Homo sapiens: one gene and its partners. The protein of the gene in region 1 interacts with the protein of each later gene in a biochemical or structural test. Each region holds a gene or a part of one and is shown on either strand. Other genes may lie near its edges.

What was found.
Region 2: the proteins of SLC9A4 (region 1) and CHP1 form a complex in vitro, tested with the Homo sapiens proteins (one study listed by BioGRID).
Region 3: the proteins of SLC9A4 (region 1) and CHP2 form a complex in vitro, tested with the Homo sapiens proteins (one study listed by BioGRID).

What each region holds. Positions count from the first base shown.
Region 1 is NC_000002.12:102,468,633-102,476,240, reverse strand, and holds the start of SLC9A4 (sodium/hydrogen exchanger 4 precursor), read right to left. Parts: upstream 3,016-7,608; 5' UTR 2,482-3,015; coding exon 2,226-2,481; intron 1-2,225. UniProt on the Homo sapiens protein: Electroneutral antiporter that exchanges sodium for protons or ammonium ions at the basolateral membrane of epithelia to regulate cell volume and intracellular pH upon hypertonic conditions.
Region 2 is NC_000015.10:41,227,191-41,234,288, forward strand, and holds the start of CHP1 (calcineurin B homologous protein 1), read left to right. Parts: upstream 1-4,077; 5' UTR 4,078-4,192; coding exon 4,193-4,259; intron 4,260-7,098. UniProt on the Homo sapiens protein: Calcium-binding protein involved in different processes such as regulation of vesicular trafficking, plasma membrane Na(+)/H(+) exchanger and gene transcription. Involved in the constitutive exocytic membrane traffic.
Region 3 is NC_000016.10:23,750,384-23,758,046, forward strand, and holds the start of CHP2 (calcineurin B homologous protein 2), read left to right. Parts: upstream 1-4,642; 5' UTR 4,643-4,666; coding exon 4,667-4,733; intron 4,734-5,277; coding exon 5,278-5,350; intron 5,351-5,463; coding exon 5,464-5,544; intron 5,545-5,679; coding exon 5,680-5,810; intron 5,811-6,004; coding exon 6,005-6,066; intron 6,067-6,817; coding exon 6,818-6,940; intron 6,941-7,146; coding exon 7,147-7,200; 3' UTR 7,201-7,663. UniProt on the Homo sapiens protein: Functions as an integral cofactor in cell pH regulation by controlling plasma membrane-type Na(+)/H(+) exchange activity.

The DNA.
Region 1 (7,608 bases):
GATGTGGAACTGAAGTAGAAGATAAACCACAAAGTCTGAGGTGGCTTTGTATTATCTTTGTTATACATTATCTTTGTTTTATAAGTGCATATAGTTGGGTGTTTTAAAAAGGATTGGGGGAGAGTTTTGATGTTTTTCTGTCAGAGTATCTATGGGCAATAAGTACTAAGTTAACCTATCTTCCCCGTTAGACCAAGTCCCTTGAGGTCAGGGACCATGGTCATTTCCACATATTTCATGGGTTCTCAGAAAATGTACCTTGATGGAATGAGGAATAAAAGAATGAATCATAATAATGATTATTAATTTTATTCTGATTCATGTTTTATAACATAATCTTTAAAAACTCATATGCATTTCTTAAGTGCTGAAATTATAAATCATCATCATCATTATTATTTTGGCCCTAGTAAACAAGCCCTTATACATAAAACTACCAGCCCAGTAATTGGCACATAGTATATATTCAATAAATATGGCCTTTTTATCTCCTCACTCCTCATGTCCATATGGAATATAAAAATAATCTAAATTCTTGAAGACTAGTAAATATGAAATTGTACTCGAATAAGCGTGTTCTGATATCCTACTCTTTTTTTCTAAAGTATGTTAAATTACATCATGAAAATCAAGAACATTTAAACCAACAGTTCTATGAATAATCGTATTTTCACAGTGTTCTTCGCTCCTAGACAGAATGAATCTGGGTGCATACAATGCCTCTACAAAACAAGCTAGGTTTTACACAAATATAAAACCAAGACAAAATGCAGCCTTTCTGCGTTTAGATGTTTACTGATAAACAGAGCAACTAGCTAGTCAGTGACAGGACGAGTTTCCTGGTACTCAGATTGACTTGAGCCATTTCTGTGAAGAGGAAGCCAGGTTGTGGAATGGGGAGCAGGGAACACAGAATCTCTAGCATATTGTTTTAAAAGGAAAACTCAAGTACCAAGTAAGATCACCTTGAACACAATCAGTGTCTATATGATTTCACAAAAGATGTTAGACTGTTCTGAACTGAGAATGTTATCCATTTGGAAAGCCATTTTTACTTGTATACCTCTTAAAAATATAGTAAGATCCTTTGTGTAACTTATTCACTAAGCAAATTGCACAAGACTTCTTCAAACTAACATTCCTATTTAATATTCACACTTTACTAGCTCAAAATGAATAGCAACTATAAAGGAGAGTCTAAAGGGGACACCTATACCAGTGTCCCCACACCCACAGGGAGGGAGCTAAGTGAATAGCCAGAGCACACAGAAGGTAACTGCCAGACCTCAAGGCTCAACCCACATTACACACCCATCCTAGAGAAAACATACACATATAAATAAATGAGAATTAAAATGTTTCATTGATTCTATCTCAATAAGGCAATCTACATACTCAAATAGCATAAAGTTTATAGCTGAGGCAAAGGAGGCATTGTGCTTAGCATTTGAGATAATTATATTAATTTTCCACTTTAGAATAAGCTGGTTTTAAAGAGATAAGGAGGAGCAGTTAGGGATTAAACAGTCACAGAGTATAGCCACCTCTTTGGTTTTTGACACAAAGATCCCTTGATTGGAATTTAATCTATTAACTTGGATTCACTTTATTTCACAAAGGAAATTAGAGGTGCCTCACTGGCCCCACTTGGTAGGTATAAACTAATATTTTACTGACAGATATAATCTTATATGCCCCGACATCCCATCACTGAGTAATACAAGTTGCCTATGGTTTTCTTGTTTTTTGCTTTCTGTCAATTTGCAAGAAGCACACGCTACTTTTAAAGAATAAACAATGGGGTGATTGATGAAGCCCACAATTACACAGCCAAGAATATTTTACAGAAGAAACATTATGTGTTTCCTGAAATTTCCACCTTGCATCATGCCCAGGTCTACGTGCTTTATTCTCTATATTTTTAAAGCATAGAATTTGAGAGTTTTGCATGTCAACAATGTCACATGGTTGTCACCCTGAAATGAGAAGAAACCAACACAGCCCAGTACCCAGAAGTATGCTCTCAAATTTCAAAGAGCAATCTCAAAGTATTAAATAGCTTAGTAAAATGCAGTTATGACTTTCCCTTGACTGAAGGGAAGAGAATTTTTAATGTAATAGCAGTAACAGTTAAAATCCTCTTAGCCCGTTATCTATAAGGCATTTTCACATTCACTATCTTATGTAAAAAGATAACTCACCAAACCAGGTGTTTAAGGACTTACCTATTTTTGCAAGGGATGCTAGAAGTATCCAGAGAGTGACCTCATAAGGAATTTGCACATAGTCATAATCCAGTTCAAAAACAGATATCCCTTCCTCTGGCTCTGAGCTGGCAGCAGCAAACCAAGCGTTAGATGCATACTGAGCAGTGGAATTTGCAGATTCATTCAAATCAGAAGATGCTTCAGAACACTCAAGAGCCACTAGCAGTAGCAAACAATTCCAAGGACTGTAAGTCACGAACATCTGCAGAGCCATTCCTGTGGGCTTCTCCTACCTACACCCCTGTGTGGATGTGTGCCACACATCTGAAGTCGGGGAGGCTTCTAGAGAGTGACTGCATCCACCTGGGTCAAAAGTAATATAGGTACAGTCTGTGGGTCCTCCCAAGAAGATTCCGAGTGTGTTATTGAGCTCTGTATGTAGACACTTTCTAATCTGGTTTAAATCGTTTGTGTTCAGGCAACTCAGCTTCCAACTCAAATGCAGTTATTCAATAGACTTGTTAAAGTCCATGGAGCTACCTGGAGGACCTCCATCCAATCATGGCTTGAGCAATTTATGAAAGAAATAAAAATCTCTTCACTTAAAGGCATTTCCTCATTTCACTGCATACTGGCTTTGTCTTGTGGGTGAAAATTTAAAAGGATACTGTAGTGCTCATTCCACAGATCACTGGAGTCCTTCTAATGAGGAAAGGAAACCTTCCCTGTCTATCAGATCCCAAGAAGGAGCTACCTGATCTGCGCTTGTTCCTTCTCTCCTCCCCCTGTCCTCTCATTTGTTTTGAATGACCACGGCTTCAGGTAGCTCTGGAACTACACTTAATTATTTGCTTTGATTTGACTTTTGTAATGAAATCCTTTCTCTGAGGGTTCTCTGGAGGTCACACTGCTGACACCTAGTGGGCACCTGCAATACAACACCCTTGACACTTTCAGTTATGAACGTTAAGGTGACCATGAAATTATCTAAACCAGGACACTTTGGGGAATGAATAATAATGATAATTATGCAAAGCTATAGGCACAAACCAGAATTGTCCAGCAAACTGTCTTATATGGTCTCTATACATGAGGAAGAAGGAGGATAAGAAGGAGGTGGTAACAACAAGGATGGTAGCAAACACTGAAACTTTTGCATGTTACCAGACTCCATGAGCAGTCATTCATAGAAGGAATGAAGTTCCAGATCTCTATGAACTTTACACTATAATTTTTAAAAAACAGGAAGCCAAAGAACAAGTTCCATAAATACACCTAAATACCTGGATTTGTAAAACTCCATGGCACATCCAGATTTTCCATTTAAAAAACATTTGTTGTTGTTAAAAAGAAGCAGCATCATAGAATGTTGATGAAAGAATTTTGAGATAATTTTTATGAGCCTACTTCTCGCTCTTCTACTTGTTGCCAGGTGACCTTGGTGAAGTTAATTACCTTTCAGAAATTCCTTATCTGAAACAGAGAGGAAAATATCTGCCTCATTGAGTAGCTAGGAACATTAAATGAGATAAAGCAAGTAAAGAATTTGGCATGTAGTTGGCACTTAAATGTTAGTTTTTATTTTAAATTACATTTCTTATACTTTTAGGATAAGATACAACACTTTTGCAATGATTACTGATACTCAGTAAAAAATGAGAATAATACATCATCCATATACTACCCCAACATCTCTTTTACATCAAACTGCAAGATGCTTTGTGTTTTGTTTTTTCTTAGTTCATATTAGTGAGTGCAGGGGATTTCCCCCCAGCCAACACACACACACACACACACACACACACACACACACACACACACACACTCAGCTAACATCACTGGGAAATTGAGAAAGGAATGGTTGAGAAGGGCTAACACCTAGATGCAAATTCATAGTGAGGCAATAGAATTAAAAGTTCACATATGAATATTTTTTCTTTTTCCTTCAGTTTGACTCCAGAATAGATTAGATTCAGTCACTGAAATGAGACTATCAGGTGGACTACAAGAAGGGTACACATATTGAGTCGATTATTTTTTCTCAAAGAATATATGAATATCCTTTAATAGAAAGCTGCTTTATAATAGGTGTTTTATTTTTATTTGCATTTTATTGTACTTTTCTTTCTAAAAAGAAATGAGGGAGCAAGTCTCACATAGTGCCTTGTGGAAAGACCAAAATGAAGAATCAAAAGACTTATGTACTCAGACATTAGTTATCTGATTGGCTTTGGAAAATTACCTGTTTGAGCCTTATAGTTTGAGCCTTTATAGTTTTCTCATCTATAAAATAAAGATGCTGTCCATACCTGGTAACCCTTTCCTGCTCTAAAATTCCAAATTTTGTGAGTATATGGCAACCCGTTTAGCCTTATGATCACCTGATGGCTGATAGTCCAGTCCCTCTCAGAGTAAAAATGCCAATCTTGGGAGGATGGTAAGAGAACAACTTGAGCTCTGCAACAGTCTACTAACTTGTGGTCCAGGTTAAGATGTAGCAGCCCACTTCATCAACCATCGGCATCACTTCCACTCATGCAGTACTTTCTTACAGATGTCAGAACATTCTTTCTAAAATGATTTCTTAGTATAAGGTCCCCAGAAAGTGTATGTGAGACAAAGCTTCCATGAGAAGTGCAAACTAAGGGCAGCAAAAGTGAGGGGAAAGGGGGAAGAAAGGAGAAGCTCTTCTAGAATGACAGCATAAGAAGCACCATAGATTTCCTAGTGAAACAACTATAACTGGTGAGATCATTAAAAATCAAAAACAACCATCCAGTCTCTGGAAATTGTCCTAAGAGCAGACAGAAATTGAAAAAAATCTTCTAAATATTGGTAAGACCTGAAGGCACGGCCTGTTTTCTCTACCCACCCCTCAGCTCAATGTGAGAAAAACTCTATTCTGGATGAATGTAGCCACGAGGATGGGGCTGCCTCTAATCCCAGATCCCAGTTTATGACTACAGTTTCTACCCAGAAAAGTCAGGTTGTCAGCATACGTAACCAAACTCTGCCCTACCCCAATCCTAGCAATATGTTGAACAGACTCTATTGCAGGCAAATGTAACTGAATCTACCCCAGAAACAGCAAATTAGGAATACTGGACCCCGATAACTCTCAACTTACTCATAAGACTGAGTTTTCACAACACTGGAAATAAACCAAGATGACCAGTGGCTACTACCCCAGTCCAGCATCCCACTCACACACCAGGGGTATCACTCCAAGAGAAGTAGGTTACTATCTCTATCCCCATCTCCAGAGTAGTGGAACAGAGTTTCTGCCAAGGAGAGGAGACAGGCTATAGAACAGAGAACTCTATAACTAACTCTAAGTATGCTAACTTTATTTGGAACAAAATATAGAGATGTTCAAGCCTAAGGGCACTGTCAAAAACAATGAAGATTTAGGTTGTGAGCAAGGAAGAAAAGCTAGTAGCTCCATGATTGCAATAAGTTAAAGAGTAGACCAACTAGAAGTTTAACAGAAGAACCAGAAAAAGAGATGGCTGAAAAGAGCTCTCCTGAGGCTATAACATGTCTCAGAGACTGGTCTCAAAGATTACCCTGCAAAGGAGCCTGACTTTAATTGGATCGGACTGTGGAGTAATTTATAACCCAAGGCATTGTTGAAAACAATAGGCCATTTCAGCCAGCAGTTACTGGAGGCTAACAGTTGAGTGTGATGTCAATAGATACAACAGACCAGCTAGAAGCTTAATATATCAGTGAAAGAAAGTCAGAGAAGCCTGCTAAAACCATTGTTATTCTGGGGGAAGGGAGAAAGGGCTTAGGGGTATTATAACCATGCCCCAGGCTTCACTGGCTGAGGATCAGTATAAAAAGCTGCACAGGGAAATAGACTTTGCTGATATAGTCCAGCCAAGTCACTAAACAAACAGCAAACAATTAAGCAACAACAAGCCCTGGAGTTGGGGGAGGGGGAGAAAGCAGCATCAAGAATTGCTACAAGAAATCATCTAAAATATCCAGTTTTTAGGCAGAAAAAAATTATGGACTACATACTGTCTACAGAAGTCACATTTTAGTTTCAAAGATACCAGTAGGTTGAAAGTAAAAAAAAAAAAAATGAGAAAAGATATATTACACAAACACTATGCTAAGAGAACTTGAGTGGCTTTACACTGACGAAATATGCTTTAAAATAACAAATGTTACTAGAGATAAAGAGGGACATTTAAGAAAAAGAAAAGTGTCAATCTATCAAGAAGATGTAACAATTCAAACTTATTTATACAAAGTGGGATTTATCTCAGGAAGGCAAGGTTGGTTTAATATTTAAAAATTATTTCATATAACATACATGTCAATAGAATTAAGGCAAAACCACATGACCATTTCAACAGACTGAGAAAAGCATTTGACAAAATCAACAACCTTTTATTTTAAAAACACTCTACAGGTCAGGAATGGAAGGAAACTTCTTCAACATGATAATACACAGCCAACATCATACTTAAAGGGAAAAGACTAAATACATTTCCCTGAAAGAACAGGAACAAGACAAAGAGATACACTCTTGCCACTTCCATTCAATATTCTACTAGAGCTGCTTTTAGTCAGGGCATTTAGACAATGAAAAGAAACAAAAGGCATTCAGATTGGAAGGAAAAAAAGTCAAACTATTTCCACTTGCATGATCTTTTAAATAGATTACTCTAAAATATTTAAACAGAATATCCTGAATAATTGACTAAAAAACTATTAGATATAATAAATGAGTTTAACAAGCTTGTAGGATATGAGATCAATATGCAAAAACAAATTGTGTTTTATAGTGACAATGAATAAAACAAAATGGAATTAAGAAAATAATGCCATTTATAATAGCATCAAAAAATGCAATTCTTAGGAATAAGTTTATCAAAAAAGTGTCACACTTGTATTCTAAAAAAAATTGTTTAAAGAAGATCTAAATAAATGGAAATATGATCCAAATAATAATTATCAGTTAACTTAATTTCTCAGAAAAGATCCATTCACAGGTGCACCAGAGTATCGCAGGGTGCTGTGCGCTTTCCTGTTTATACTTGTGATGGTGAAGGGAAAATATAAACAGTTTTCATTTGCAAAGCAGAGAGTTAAAAGAATCATCCTGGAATTTTAGGTCCGCAGCAAGCTATTGGATACCTGACAGTTTTGATCTAATTATTCAGATAACTATATTGGTTGTAGAAACTTGACCTTCTCTGACCTGCCTTCCTGACCCCTTTTTGGTGCCAGTCCCAAGAATCCCTGTGGTTCTTGTCATCTGTTCATAGAAACCCGCTCACACATAGAGCCCAGTGGCAGGAAAGGAATGGCCAGACATCCTCTCCCCAGTGGGTGCCTTATAATTTAGATTGCTATATCCTGTCTTCCCTCATGGGACTAATTGAGG
Region 2 (7,098 bases), on another chromosome or scaffold:
TACATTGGGAAAAGAACTTTTCTTTCAACTTGTGTTTAATGAATTGAATTTTAGAGACAGTTTCCCATAACTTGGGTCTATGCTATCCTATTAATTTTTATGTCTAGGTACTTGAAATGTTCCATTTCTGTGTATTTTTTTATTTTCTGTCCTATGACAGTTCTACGCTAAAGGTATTTTAAAATAAAAGCCAAATTGGCCGGGCGCAGTGGCTCATGCCTGTAATCCCACCACTTTGGGAGGCCGAGGTGGGCAGATAATCTGAGGTCGGGAGTTCCAGACCAGCCTGACCAACATGGAGAAACCCTGTCTTTACTAAAAATACAAAATTAGCCGGGTGTGGTGGCGTATGCCTGTAATCCCAGCTATTCAGGAAGGCTGAGGCAGGAGAATCACTTGAACCCGGGAGGCAGAGGTTGCAGTGAGCCGAGATTTAGAGATCGCGCCACTGTACTCCAGCCTGTGCGACAGAGCAACACTGTCTCAAAAAAAAAAAAAAAAAGAATTACAACCATATAGAAATGTACAAAGTAAAGAAAAAATGTACTAAGAAATATTATTCATAGTGGGTACTCACCACTGGGTGCAGTGGCTTATGCCAGTAATCCTAGCACTTTAGGAGGCCAAGACAGGCAGATCACCTGAGGTCAGGAGTTCGAGACCAGCCTGACCAACATGGTGAAACCCCGTCTCTACTAAAAACACAAAAATTAGCCAGCTGTAGTGACGCACACCTGTAATCCTAGCTACTCAGGAGGCTGAGGCAGGAGAATCACTTGAACCCAGGAGGTGGAGGTTGCAGTGAGCCAAGATCGCGCCATTGCACTCCAGCCTGGGAGACAAGAGTGAAACTCTGTCTCAAAAAACAAAACAAAACAAAAGAAGGCGGTACTCTTACATTCTTTACCATAATACAGTAATTTTTTAAAAGTTAATTTAGAACTATTCTGTTATTTAGATGTCCTTGTATTTAGAAACTTAGATAAGTATTCTTCTATAGTTTTTTAAATTTAAAAGCTGTATACTTTTGCCACACTAGGAAAATTCAACCAGTGAATTTTGCAATTTAACCATAAAAACATTGATGAAATAACTAGAGCCTAAGTCAACTAGGAAGAAGGTGAGATGTTACATACAATTTTCGGTCAAATAAATAACCTATATTTTTACATTTTAAGGTCTATCAAGTGCTTATACAAATATTACTTGATATAACAACCATAACCTAATTTACAAATGAAGAAACTGAAGTTTAGAAGGTTAAGACACCTGCCCAAAGTCACACAGCTAGAAGGTAATGCAATCTGAACTAAGACCAGGCCTCTAGGGTAGGATGTTTGTAGTTTAGTGCAAGACCAAGTCTTATGCATCCAAACAGAACATAAAACAAGTCATCAGAGAGTCTAAGAAAAACCATTCTTTAAGTTAATCCAACAGGCAAAAGGAGAATTTTTAAAGAAAAATACATAAAACTGGAAAAAGAAAACAGCCCTTAATAGAGGCAAACATTATTTTTATTTTATTTTTGAGATGGAGTCTCACTCTGTCGCCAGGCTGGAGTGCAGTACCGCTATCTTGGCTCACTGCAACCTCTGCCTCCCGGGTTCAAGCAATTTATACTTTTAAAAGGTACCCAAGAAAGGAAAGTTTGTGAAACACCTGGAAAATAAGAGAATTAGAGAAACATTAAAGAAAAAAAAATTAAAGTCAGAAAAAAATACTAACATGAAGCAAAGAAAGCTTTGACTGGAGACAGCTGCAAACACTAAGATTCAAGATTAGGAAGGAAAAAAGTAAGGTCAGCATCAAGAGATGGGCTTCAAGGCTGACTGAGAAAAGGGACATTCATGGGGCTGACAAAATTTTCCTATCACAGCCATATTCCAACATACAAAGCAGCTCCAGTGATTTAGCTCTTAGACGGGCATATCCAAAATGTTACTGAGTACAAAGGACAACATCACTAGGTTAGACAAGTGCACGACAATCATAAAAATAACTCTAAGGCCGGGCACGGGGACTCACGCCTGTAATCCCAACACTTTGGGAGGCCGAGGCGGGTGGATCACCTGAGTTCTGGAGTTTGAGACCCGCCTAGACAATATGGTGAAACCCTGTCTCTACTAAAAATACAAAAATTAGCTGGGCGTGGTGGCACGCGCCTGTAATCCCAGCTACTCAGGAGGCTGAGGCATGATAATCCCTTGAACCCGCCTGGAGGTTGCAGTGAGCCGAAAATGCACAGTGATCAGGCCATTGCACTCCAGCCCGGACTCTGTCGCAAAAAAACAAAACAAGCCAGGTGCGGTGGCTCACGCCTGTAATCACAGCACTTTGGGAGGCTGAAGCGGGCAGATCACCTGAGATACGGAGTTCGAGACCAGCCTGACCAACATGGAGAAGCCCTGTCTCTACTAAAAATACAAAATTAGCTGGACACGGTGGCGCATGCCTGTAACCCCAGCTACTAGGGAGTCTGAGGCAGGAGAATCGCTTGAACCCGGGAGGCGGAAGTTTCGGTGAGCTGAGATGGCGCCTTTGCACTTCAGCCTGGGCAGAAGAGCAAAAACTCCGTCTCAAACAACAACAACAACAACAAACAAACAAAACTCTAGTTCTTCAAACTAGAACCTCAGCTTGCAGGGAACGTGTGGGGCCTCAGGCTAAGCTGTAAAGCCTTAGGTAACACTTAAAACTAGTAACTTAAGTTGACCTGGGAAAGCCTGCTACGACAAAAATATCCTGGTACTTGGGTACTAACAGCAGTCAGAATTCGGTTCTTCCTTATCTTATACGTGTTCTAACCAAACAGGTGTGAAGGGGTAAGGCAGGTGAAGCAGTAAGAACTGGTTCACCTGAGAGTAGGCACTAATTTAACGGGTGGCTTTTACCTTTTTTTTTTTTTTTTTTTGAGACGGAGTCTTGCTCTGTCACCCAGGCTGGAGAGCAATGCCGCGATCTCGGCTCACTGCAACCTCCGCCTCCCGGGTTCAAGCGATTCTCCTGCCTCAGCCTCCCGAGTAGCTGGGATTACAGGCACGCGGCACCACACCCGGATAATTTTGTATTTTTATTAGAGATGGGGTTTCTCCATATTGGTCAGGCTGGTCTCGAACTCACGACCTCAGGTGTTCTGCCCACCTCGGCCTCCCAAAGTGCTGGGATTACAGGCGTGAGCCACCGTGCCAGGCCTACCTTTTTAATCAAAACAAACAATACACCATGAGAATAAAATGCAAAATTTCTCATTTTTAAGACAAAATAAGGAACTTCAAATAAATGGCGGACCATAAGCTAGGAATTCACTGTCCTCCATCGTTAGGGCTTTTTCCTCCGAAGGAAGTTTGGGAAATCTGGATCCTAATTTCAGCCAAGTGGTGCGTTCCTCGAACTTCAGTCTAGAACTAAAAGAAGAGGGGCTGCAATGAAGGAAGAAGTCTCGGGACGCTCCACGCCACCCGGCGGCGGTTATCAAATCACAGGCTGAAAACCTGGAGAAAGGTCCGCGACGCCGGGGACACACGCCGCAGAGGCGACGCCCGCCCGGCCCAACGTCCAGTCTCGTCTGTTTCCCGAGGAGCCAATCAGCACGCGGCCCCGAGGCCGGCTCCCCAGCGCCCCCTGCGGCCGGGAGGAGGACGGCAGCCAGGAAAGATGAAGAGCGCGTGCAGTCCCCGAAGGGTACACCCTAGGGTTCCCCCCCACGCGAAGTTTCTCTCCGCAATCCGTGCCACCTATCGAGTAGGATTCCTAGTGTTCGATTCCTGTGAGAAAAGGTAGACTACGCTGCCTGTCGCAGGTTAGTTTGTTGTAAAACTGTTGGTCAATGACGTTGCCCTTTTAATTGCGTCGTTAGCGACCGAGTGGCATCGCCCCTTTAAGGCCGGTGGCAGCTGCGGTTCCGGGGGCGGGGTCCGTCTTCAGCAGGACTTGGGCTGGAGCTGGGCTGATTCATTCGGGGCTGGAACTCGAACGCTGACGTTGGCTCCTGAGCCGGGCGCTGCCTCGCGCCTGATTGGCGGGTCCTCGGGGCCGCCCTCCCCAGCGCACCACCCCTGGGTTCCCTCCCGGGTCCGCAGTGGAAACACTGCCCTCTCCCTTCTTGACCCCTAGCCCTTCCTTCCCTCCCTCCTTCCCTCCTGTCGCCGTCTCTTCTGGCGCCGCTGCTCCCGGAGGAGCTCCCGGCACGGCGATGGGTTCTCGGGCCTCCACGTTACTGCGGGACGAAGAGCTCGAGGAGATCAAGAAGGAGACCGGCTGTGAGTTCGGGTTGGGGGTGGGAACGCCGGGCGCCTCAGGCTGGCCTCACAACCAAGGGCGGCTGTCGCTAAGGTCTGGAGCTCGGGTGCCTGTGAGGTTGGGGGGTCCTGGGCAGCCTCCAGGTTTGGGGACCGAGAGCTGGAAGACCTGTTCTTCCAGCTGCAGCTTCCTGGAGCGGGGCTCTAGCTACTGTGGGGCTGTCCTTCCCTTCAAAATCGGGACTCTTGATCACTCGTAGAGCGTCGACGCCCCCCTTTTCTGCACCCTGCCCATCAAAGTCCCCGAACTCCTTTCCTTTCTGTTGCCTCGCACCACCCTTCCCTATGAAGAGGCATCCTGAACAGTAGGTAAAGCCCGAGAAGCAAATTCAGGAACTCGAGATGGATTCTGTAGAAAATCCGTTTCTGGGTAAGGACCTAAAACCTCTGACAACTATGGGAAATTACAAACAAGTTCTTGTCACAAATTGGGAAAACCACCCAGAAAGCAAGACCGTGTAGTAAGGCTTTGGGAGACATGACCCGATGCCTGGAGACCTTTAAACAATCAGGGGTCTGGGATTGTGAGACTTCTTTCAATCTGAACTTCTAGAGAAAAAACACGGATACTGTGACCACCAGTTTTTTACTTACACGACGATACTTGCTGTCCTAATCTCATATATGTATTGATTTCTACTATGCTGGTGTACTTTTTTATTCGCTATTGAAATTGGATGTGCTCCAAAAATCTCCGTGTGAATTTGTACTAGGAACTGATTTTTTTTTTTTTTTTTTTTGAAACGGAGTCTCCCTCTGTCAACCAGGCTGGAGTGCAGTGGCGTGATCTCGGCACACTGCAACTTCCGCCTCCCAGGTTCAAGCAGTTCTCCTGCCTCAGCCTCCCAGGTAGCTGGGAGTACAGGTGCCTGCCACCACGCTTGGCTAATTTTTGTATTTTTGGTAGAGATGGGGTTTCACTATGTTGGCCCGGCTGGCCTCGAACTCCTGACCTCAAGTGATCCACCCACCTCGGCCTCCCAAAGTGCTGGGATTACAGGTGTGAGCCACCGTGCCCTGCAGAACTGATTTTTTTTTTTATAGTCCAGTCTCTTCCTCATTAGTCTGAACAAAGGAGCAAAAGGACTCGGGATTCTGAAGCGCTGTAAAATACCATCATAACTTTGAATAGTCCTTGATAATGCAATGTATGATACAATTGTATTGATGCATACAATATTTTATCTTTTCAGTAAACCTTTATGATTCTTATTGAGTTAATGAAGGATGTAGCACCTGAGCTCTGTCTCTTCATCATACTTGTCTTTGATAATGACATGACCAGTAACTCACTCCGGCCCATATGCAGATAGTACTGAGGAGTGCTATGGGGAACTACAGAATTTTTCAGGCCTGTTTAAGTGCTGTTCTCTGCTTTGTGACAAGTTCAACTTTCTGGAGTTTTCAAGTTGGAAGGGATGTTTTCTAGCCCCACCCCTTTCTGGACTGGTTTGCTTCTTTCAGCCTCCCCTAAAATATGGCCCTTAAGCCTCTCTGTAAAGACATTTAATGATGGTAACCTCTCCACCTACCAAGGCAGTCCTTTTCACGATTTGAATGACCCAAAGTAGTTAGCTCTTTATAATTTGCAGTACTTGTTTGGCCACTGACTTACTCTGACCCTCGGAGTGGAGACGCAAGCAGTTTGGATTCAACAAGCATTTTATTACGTTTTGTGGCCATAACTTCTGGCCACATTTGTAATTAGTACTACTTTAGGTCTAGGGTGACACCGAATTAAAGTATTTGTGTTAAAGAGTCACATGGAGAAATAAGCAGAATCAAAGAGAAATAAATATAGAGTCACATAATGAGAAAGTGTAAACCATAGTGAAGATGCAAAAAGCCATTTTTGCTTCAGAATGAAGGGAGCAGTAATCCCATTCTGGTTTATATACATTTGACCAAATGGAAATGACCTGGATGGGATATTTTTACCATGTGGCTTGTGGACAAACAACTAAGTGCTCATGGAAAAGCTGTTTTCCCCATTGCCAAAGAGTGAGTCACTTGTGAGGGAGATTCTCTCCACAACCAGTGCAAATGTATGTATTGAGCCAGAATGCTTAGTGAAACAAGTGCTTACTGAATTTTTACAGTGTCTGTTCAGTACTGTGCTAGGTACTCAGAGCAGATGGTGACAAAAAACGCCCCCAACCTGGTTGGGGAGATAAGCCCAAGAGAGTTATGATTAGCATCATGACATAAGAAAGCTGAGAATTGTGTGTCATCCACCTTCAGAAATCAGGCAAGAGAGAGAGTCCTTGTGGGCTGTCCTCATGGAGGACAGGAATTGGGCCTTGATACATGGGTGGAGTAGATTTGGATAGATTAACCTAGGGCATTTTGGGTGACTTCCAGGAGAGATCTCCCCCTAAGCCTGCTACAAAGTCATTCCTTTGCCCTGGGAACCATCAGTTTATCCAAATAGTGTCCATCATCAGAGTTGTTTTTTCTTTTTCTTTTTCTTTATTTTAGAGACAGGGTCTTTGCTCTGTCTCCCAGGCCGGACTGCAGTGGCTTGAGCATAGCTCACTGCAAGCCTTAAACTCCTGGGCTTAAGCCATCCTCCCGCTTCAGCGTCCCAAGTAGCTAGGACTACAGGCGCATACCACCATGCTTACCTGATTTTTATTTTTATCTTTTGTAGAGATGGAGTCTTGTTATTTTGTCGAGGCTGGTCATAAACTCCTGGCCTCAAGTGATTCTTAGGCCACTTCAACCTCCCAAAGCACGGGGATTACAGGTGTGAGCCACTGCGCCAAGCCCAGAGTTGTTTTTTCAAGGAGTAATTTGGTAT
Region 3 (7,663 bases), on another chromosome or scaffold:
TGAGGTGGGAGGATCATCTTAGCCCAGGAAGTTGAGGCTGTGGTGAGCCATGATCACTCCACTGCACTGCATCCTGGGTGATAGGAGACCCTGTCTTAAGAAAAAAAAGAAAAAATAAGAAACCCTGTACACTTTAGCTATTATCCCTGACTCCCACCTACCTCCCTTAGCCCTCGGCAATCACTAACCTACTTTTTGTCTCTACGGGTTTGCCTATTCTTAACATTTCATGTAAGTGCAATCATATAATACGTGGTCTTTTGTGACTGGTTTATTTTACTTAGCATAGAGTTTTCAAGGTTCATCCATTTTGTGGCATATATAATACTTCATTACTTTTTATGGCCAAATGATATTCCGTTGTATCAATATACCATGTTTTACTTATCCATTCATCAGTCAAACATTTGGCTTATTTCCAATTTTTGGCTGTTATGAATAGTGTCGCTATGAATATTCACTACAGGTTTTTGTTTGAGCTCCTATTTTCTTTCTTTCTTTCTTTCTTTCTTTCTTTCTTTCTTTCTTTCTTTCTTTCTTTCTTTCTTTCTTTCTTTTTTTTTTTTGAGCCGGAGTCTCGTTCTGTTGCCCAGGTTGGAGTGCAGTGGTGCAATCTCGGCTCACTGCAACCTCTGCCTCCCAGGTTCAAGTGGTTCTCCTGCTTCAACCTCCCAAGTAGCTGGGATTACAGATGCGTGCCACCATGCTTGGCTAATTTTTTTGTATTTTTAGTAGAGATGGGGTTTCATTATGTTGGCCAGGCTGGTCTTGAACTCCTGACCTCAAGTGATCTGCCCACCTCTACCTCCCAGAGGGCTGGGATTACAGGTGTGAGCCACTGTGCCTGGCCTGAGCCCCTATTTTCAATTCTTTTGGGTGTATACCTAGGAGCAGAATTGCTGGGTCACATGGTAATTTTGTTTAGTGTATTGAGAAACTTTCAAACTGTTTTCCACAGTAACTGAACCATTTTACTTTTCCATCAGCAATGAATGAGGCTTCCAACTTTTTCATAGCCTCACTAAGACTTGTTTTTGTTTGTTTTAATTCCAGCCATCTTAGTGGGTATGAAGTGATATCTCATTGTGGTTGGTTTGTATTTCCCTGATGACGAATGATGTGGGGAATCTTTTCATGTACTTATTGGCTAAACATATATGTTTTTTTGGAGAAATGTCTATTCAAGTCCTTTGCCCGTTTAAAAAGTTGGGTCATTTATCTTTTTATTATTGAGTGCTAATTGTTCTGTATTTTCCTGACTATTCCTGGATGTTCATTCTTCTAGTTGAACCTTCACCAAGAATGACTAGCGGCCAGGCGTGGTGGCTCATGCCTGTAATCCCATCACTTTGGGAGGCCGAAGTGGGCAGATCACTTGAGGTCAGGAGTTCGAGACCAGCCTGGCCAACATGGTGAAACCCCATCTCTACTAAAAATACAAAAATTAGCCAGGTGTGGTGGTGCATGCCTGTAATCCCAGCTACTAGGGAGGCTGAGGCAGGAGAATTGCTTAAGCCCAGGAGGCAGAGGTTGCAGTGATCTGAGATGGCGCCACTGCACTCCAGCCTGGGCAACAGAGTAAGACTCTGTCTCAAAAAATTAAATAAGAAAAAAAAAAAAAGAATGACTAGCAACTTTTACATAGCTGAAAAGCAAAAACCAAATATTCCTCCTGACTCTAGTCTAACAGATTCTGCAGATAAAATTTTCCCCAAAGCATCTTCCCGCTTAAATGACCTGAAAAAACTGTGAAGTTGATTTAAGTCTCACTTGTGTACATGAAACAGAAATGAGTTCTAGCATAGCCTGCTCTCTCTCTCTTTCTTTTTTTTTCTTTTTGAGATGGAGTCTTGCTCTGTTACCCAGGCTGGAGTGCAGTGGTGTGATCTTGGCTCACTGCCACACCTGCCTCCCAGGTTCAAGTGATTCTCCTGCCTCAGCCTCCCAAATAGTTGGGATTACAGGCGCCTGCCACCACACCCAGCTAATTTTTTGTATTTTTAGTAGAGACGGGGTTTCACTGTGTTAGCCAGGATAGTCTCAATCTCCTGACCTCATGGTCTGCCCGCCTCAGTCTCCCAAAGGGCTGGCATTATAGGTGTGAGCCACTGTGCCTGGTCCAGCCCTCTCTTAAAAGCTTGTGTATGATGTGTGCATGGGAGTTCCTAATTACTCTCCGGCCTAATTTACTTTGGTGTAGCACTGACTCCAATATTAAGGCTGGAGAAGCCCTTTCCAAGATCAGCATCCCAAGCTGGCCTGCGGTGCTTATCACAGCTTCTTAGGGCTCTCATCTCCTCCTGGGTTCAGAACTGAACCCAAACTACATGCACAGCCTGACTCACAGCTGTGGGTTGCAGTGATTGCTGGGCTTCATTAGGGAGGAGTGTGGTTTCCCGCATGCTTAGTCTTTGGGGGGAGTCTGAAAGAGAATCAAGCATTCCTTATGCCAGTTGCTTAATCCTTGGGGGTATCTGAAAGAAGCAAGCACTTCTTAGATCAATATTTTCAAGACTTATCTGATGCAGGCCTCTGCCTGGGGCTGGAGGATAGACTGTTTCTTCAGCTTCTCTCTCTCCAGGGTGGATATGAACTTGAGCCCTTGCAATGAACTGCTTGCATGTTTTCCCCCCTGGGAAATTTGTGTATGTATGTGCAATTATGATGGGGGAAACGGTTTAAAGATACTTTCAAAAGTGGACACTTCTAGTGTTTGTCCCTTGACAAATGAGTTTCTCGACCTGTTTTTTTTTCATTATCAACGCCTCCCCTAGTCTTTTTAATTTCCCCACCCTCACCCCTACCCCATGAAATTTTATTTTCTTTCTTTTTTTTTTTTTGAGACCAAGTTTCGATCTTTTTGCCCAAGATGGTGTGCAATGGCGCGATCTAGGCTCACCTCAATCTCCACCTCCCGGGTTCAAGCGATTCTCCTGCCTCAGCCTCCCGAGTAGCTGGAATTACAGGCATGCACCACCACGCCCAGCTAATTTTGTATTTTTAGTAGAGACTGGGTTTCTCCATGTTGGTCAGTCTGGTCTCAAACTCCTGACCTCAGGTGATCCGCCCGTCTCGACCTCCCAAAGTGCTGGGATTACAGGCATAAGCCACCGCGCCCGGCCTCTTTTCTTTTCAAGACAGGGTCTCACTCTGTCACCCAGGCTGGAGTGTAATGGCGTGATCATGGCTCCCTGCAGCCTCAACCTCCTGGGCTCAAGTGATCCTCCTGTCTCAGACTCCCAAGTAGCTGAGACTACAGGCATGTGCCACGACACCTGGTTAATTTTTTTTTTTTGTATTCTTTTGTAGAGATGGGGTCTCACTATGTTGCCTAGGCTGGTCTTGAGCTCCTGGGCTCAAGCAATCCTCCTGCCTCTACCTCCCAAAGTGCTGGGATTACAGGCATGAGCCTCCACGTCTGCCCTGAAATTTCAATATCACAGCTATACTGTATATCTATTTATGTGCTGTATGTATGCTGTGCTTTGTACATAAAAAATATGTTTTATTTTTTGCCCCGTTGGGGTGAGATAGAGACCGCACTGAGAATGCACGCTTTACATAATTAGTTCACAACTTGCCCCCGGCAGCCTCCACCACGTAAAATTAGAAGAAAGCAGCCCAGCAGGGCCTACAAGGAATGTGTGAACGGATGCACGTAAAGTGCTTAGCAAAGCGTGGTAAACAAGAGCCCTTGTTGTCATTCTTGCTTTAAGCCTAGTCCCAGTGATGTCTGTAACCCTCTCTTGGGCCAAGGAGTCCCATGGCTCTGGAGGGCTGTTCAGAGGACTAAGTCATTCCCAGTCTGGAGCTCTACGGGATCAGTAGGTACCTAAGGGAGTGAATTGGGCTTGGAGGGACTGTGGCCAGAAGACAGCTCTGGGCCTGGTGGTGATAGAACTTCTGATTTCTCAGGAAAAGCCAAGAATGTGGATTTTGGGTTAAATCTCCTGAATTTTAAGCATTGGCTCAATTAAACAACAATAAGGCAATGTGAACCGAACAAAAGGGATGAAACCAAGATTTACTGACTTTCCCAGAGTCACGGGCACGGCTGGGATTCCAACAAGGACTCCCAAACCAGTGCTCTTTCCACTTAACCTAACGCACACCCTTCATCTCGCCGCCCCTCCCCACTTCCCCGTCTTTGGGAGTTCTTCGATGCCTCTTCCCCCCTCCCCCCAGGATTCCCTCCCCATAGGCCACCCGCCTTCCAGCAGGGCGTGGTCTCTACAGAGGAGGTCAGGTCTCCCAGGCTTCCTCAGCGTCGACGCCGGGGAGCGCCCTGGGGTTGGGAGCGCCCGGGGCCCGCGAAGGAGGAGGTGGCTCAGGTGTCAGGGCGCACCGTGGGAACCGGCCCCGGGGGAGGCGTGGAAACGCGGGGCCTGGGACTCGACCAGCCTCTCCCGTGCGGATCGCAAAATCTCGGAGCTGAAACAGCCCGTTGTTCGCAGCCTCCCTCTGACCCGCCACCCTGCACATTGTTTTCCATTCGCCCGGGTCGCGGGTGGGAGGAGAGGCACGCCGGGGTTCTGGAGCTTGGCCGCGCGCCAGGCTTGTGGCCTTCGTCCCCCTGGGGCCACTGGGGCGGCCACGCCTCTCCGGCGGGAGGAGAGAACGCGTGGGTCCGGGTGGCTGCTCCGGCCCTTCCGCCTCCAGCTCGGCCATGGGGTCGCGCAGCTCCCACGCCGCGGTCATTCCCGACGGGGACAGTATTCGGCGAGAGACCGGCTGTGAGTGCGCCCGCGTCGGCGGCTGCGGAGGGGACGGGGCGAACCCAGGCGTCTGGGGCTAGGGAAGGGGTTGGGTTGAAGGATGGACGAACTTACAAGTCTGGGGTCCGGGGCTCCCCGGAGCTGGAAGACCAAGGCCCCTGTGCCTGGGATCGCTGGGTTAGGGGCGGGTTAACCTAGGGGTCCCAGCCTCCAAGTCTGGGGAGGATCCGGGTTCACGGGGTCGGAGTCCAGAGGAATCCAGGCACCCAGGTGTCCTCCAGCCCGGCTCGAAGCTGAAGGCAGAGCTGACGGCGGTTGGAAGGGATGGCTTTGGTTCTTTGGTTTTCGGGAGGTTGCGAGCCGCCCGGGTCTTGAACCTGGATCTTCGCGGGGTCGTGTCACTCTCCCTCCGCCCCGGCCAGCTCAACCCCTGATTCCCCGGGATGATCGCCCCTTCCAGCCAGCCCCCGCTGTTCTGGCCCATCTTCCTGGCCTGTTGGGGCGGGTTTCTGGAGCTGGCCCTGCAGAGTCACACACCCCCACCCCACTCTCCTTCCCGCAGTCTCCCAAGCCAGCCTGCTCCGCCTGCACCACCGGTTCCGGGCACTGGACAGGAATAAGAAGGGCTACCTGAGGTGAGGGGGAGCCGGCCTCATAACTTCTGGCCTCTGTCTCTCTGACTCCATGTCCCTCTTTGACCCTCCGTCTGGCATCTCTGCCTTACCCTCTTTGAAATTTGGCTTTGCAGCCGCATGGATCTCCAGCAGATAGGGGCGCTCGCCGTGAACCCCCTGGGAGACCGAATTATAGAAAGCTTCTTCCCCGATGGGTGAGGCTTGCTGGGCGTGGGGAGGTGAAGGCGGGAAAACCGGTGTGTGAGTGGGTGGGAGGGGAGGTTAGAGACGGAGGCAAAGTGATGGCCAAGGTGACCACCACCTCTTTCCATTCTGTCCCGTCTCCCCAGGAGCCAGCGAGTGGATTTCCCAGGCTTTGTCAGGGTCTTGGCTCATTTTCGCCCTGTAGAAGATGAGGACACAGAAACCCAAGACCCCAAGAAACCTGAACCTCTCAACAGCAGAAGGAACAAACTTCACTGTGAGTTTGTGAGGACCTGCACAAGTGAGAATGCAGATGTACCCACACCAGGGACAGGCTCCAGGGATCTCCCACTCCCTTCCTGAGGGCATTGACAACCTCCCCCCTCCTCCAAGGTGGGGGGAAGGAAGGTGGCTGCTGGAAGAGAGCCAGGGAAGACCTACCTTCCTTTCCCCCTCCCACCCTCTCCCCAGATGCATTTCAGCTCTATGACCTGGATCGCGATGGGAAGATCTCCAGGCATGAGATGCTGCAGGTTGGCAGAAAGCGAGAGCAAGAGATGTGATGTGTGAAGGATGGGATGGTTAAATGCAATGGTGTGAGAGATGGGGTGGGATGATTGGGGAACTGGGGCGCAGATAATTGGGGTATTGGTTGGGAAATGGGAATGGGTGCAGTTAGAGTGTGGGTTTGTTGGGAGTCGGAGTGGGGAGCAGTTGACTATGAGGTTGGGAATAGATCAGTGATTCTCAACTGGGGGTGATTTTGCTCCCTGAGTGAATATCTGGCAATATCTGGAGATGCTTTTTGTTGTCACAATGGGGGAGAGAGTGTGCTACTGGCATCTAGTGGGTAGAGGTCAGGAATGTGGCTATATATCATGCAATACCCAGGAGAGCCTCTTCCAACAAGGAGTTACCTGGCTCCAAATGTCAACAGTGCCAAGATTGAGAAACTCTGGAACAGATGTGATGGAATGAGGATGGAATTAGAAACCCTTAGTGGCTAAGGTGGAGAATGGTGTGGAGGATGGATGGAGGTTGGGTGATAAAGTTGGGTAATGAGTTTGAGCATATTTTGAGGGTAGTGCAGGATGGTGAGGGAGAGATAGGAGATTGGTTGTTGAAGCAGTAGGGAAAATTATTGGGGGATATGGTGAAAAATGGATGAAGGATGGATTATAAAATTAGCAATAACTTTTGGGATGAGGTGGGCAAGGTTTAGGAGATGGGGAGTTGCAGCCTTCGTGCCCCCTCCTTATGGCTGCCTCTTCACTCATCTCTCAGGTTCTCCGTCTGATGGTTGGGGTACAGGTGACAGAAGAGCAGCTGGAGAACATCGCTGACCGCACGGTGCAGGAGGCTGATGAAGATGGGGATGGGGCTGTGTCCTTCGTGGAGTTCACCAAGGTCAGAGTGCCCTTGGGGATTGGGGAGTTGAGATCAGGAGTTCTGGGGCAGACAGACTTGGGAAACGTTCAACGGAGGAGGGCGGAAAGATAGGGGTTGCCTGGGAATGATGGGGTCTCTGGAATGGGTAGAACCCTGGGGGAGGAGGTTGGGAGCATGGAGAGCTGAGAGTCAAGCCTCTTGCCTGCCATTTGTTTTTCCCTCAGTCCTTAGAGAAGATGGACGTTGAGCAAAAAATGAGCATCCGGATCCTGAAGTGACTCCGTTTGTGCCTTGGGCTTGCTCCTGCAACCAGTATCTCCTTGGAATTCATCCAAAGCCCCCATGGACGCATGGACGCAGGGCGACAATAAACTGTATTTTCGTTTCTAACTCTATTTAGGGCCAAGAGAAGAAAGCTGGAAGGATGTGTACTAAAGTCTAGCTCAGCAGTCCCCAACCTTTTTGGCATCAGGGACAGTTTTTCCACGGATGGGTGACAGGGGATGGTTTTGGGATGATTCAAGTGCATTACATTTATTGTGCACTTTATTTCTATTATGATTACATTGTAATATATAATGAAATAATTATACAACTCACCATAATGTAGAATCAGCAGGAGCCCTGAGCTTGTTTTCCTGCAATTAGACGGTCCCATATGGGAGTGATGGGAGACAGTGACAGATCATCAGGCATTAGATTCTCATAAGGAGTGCACAATCTAGATCCTTTGGTGTGCAG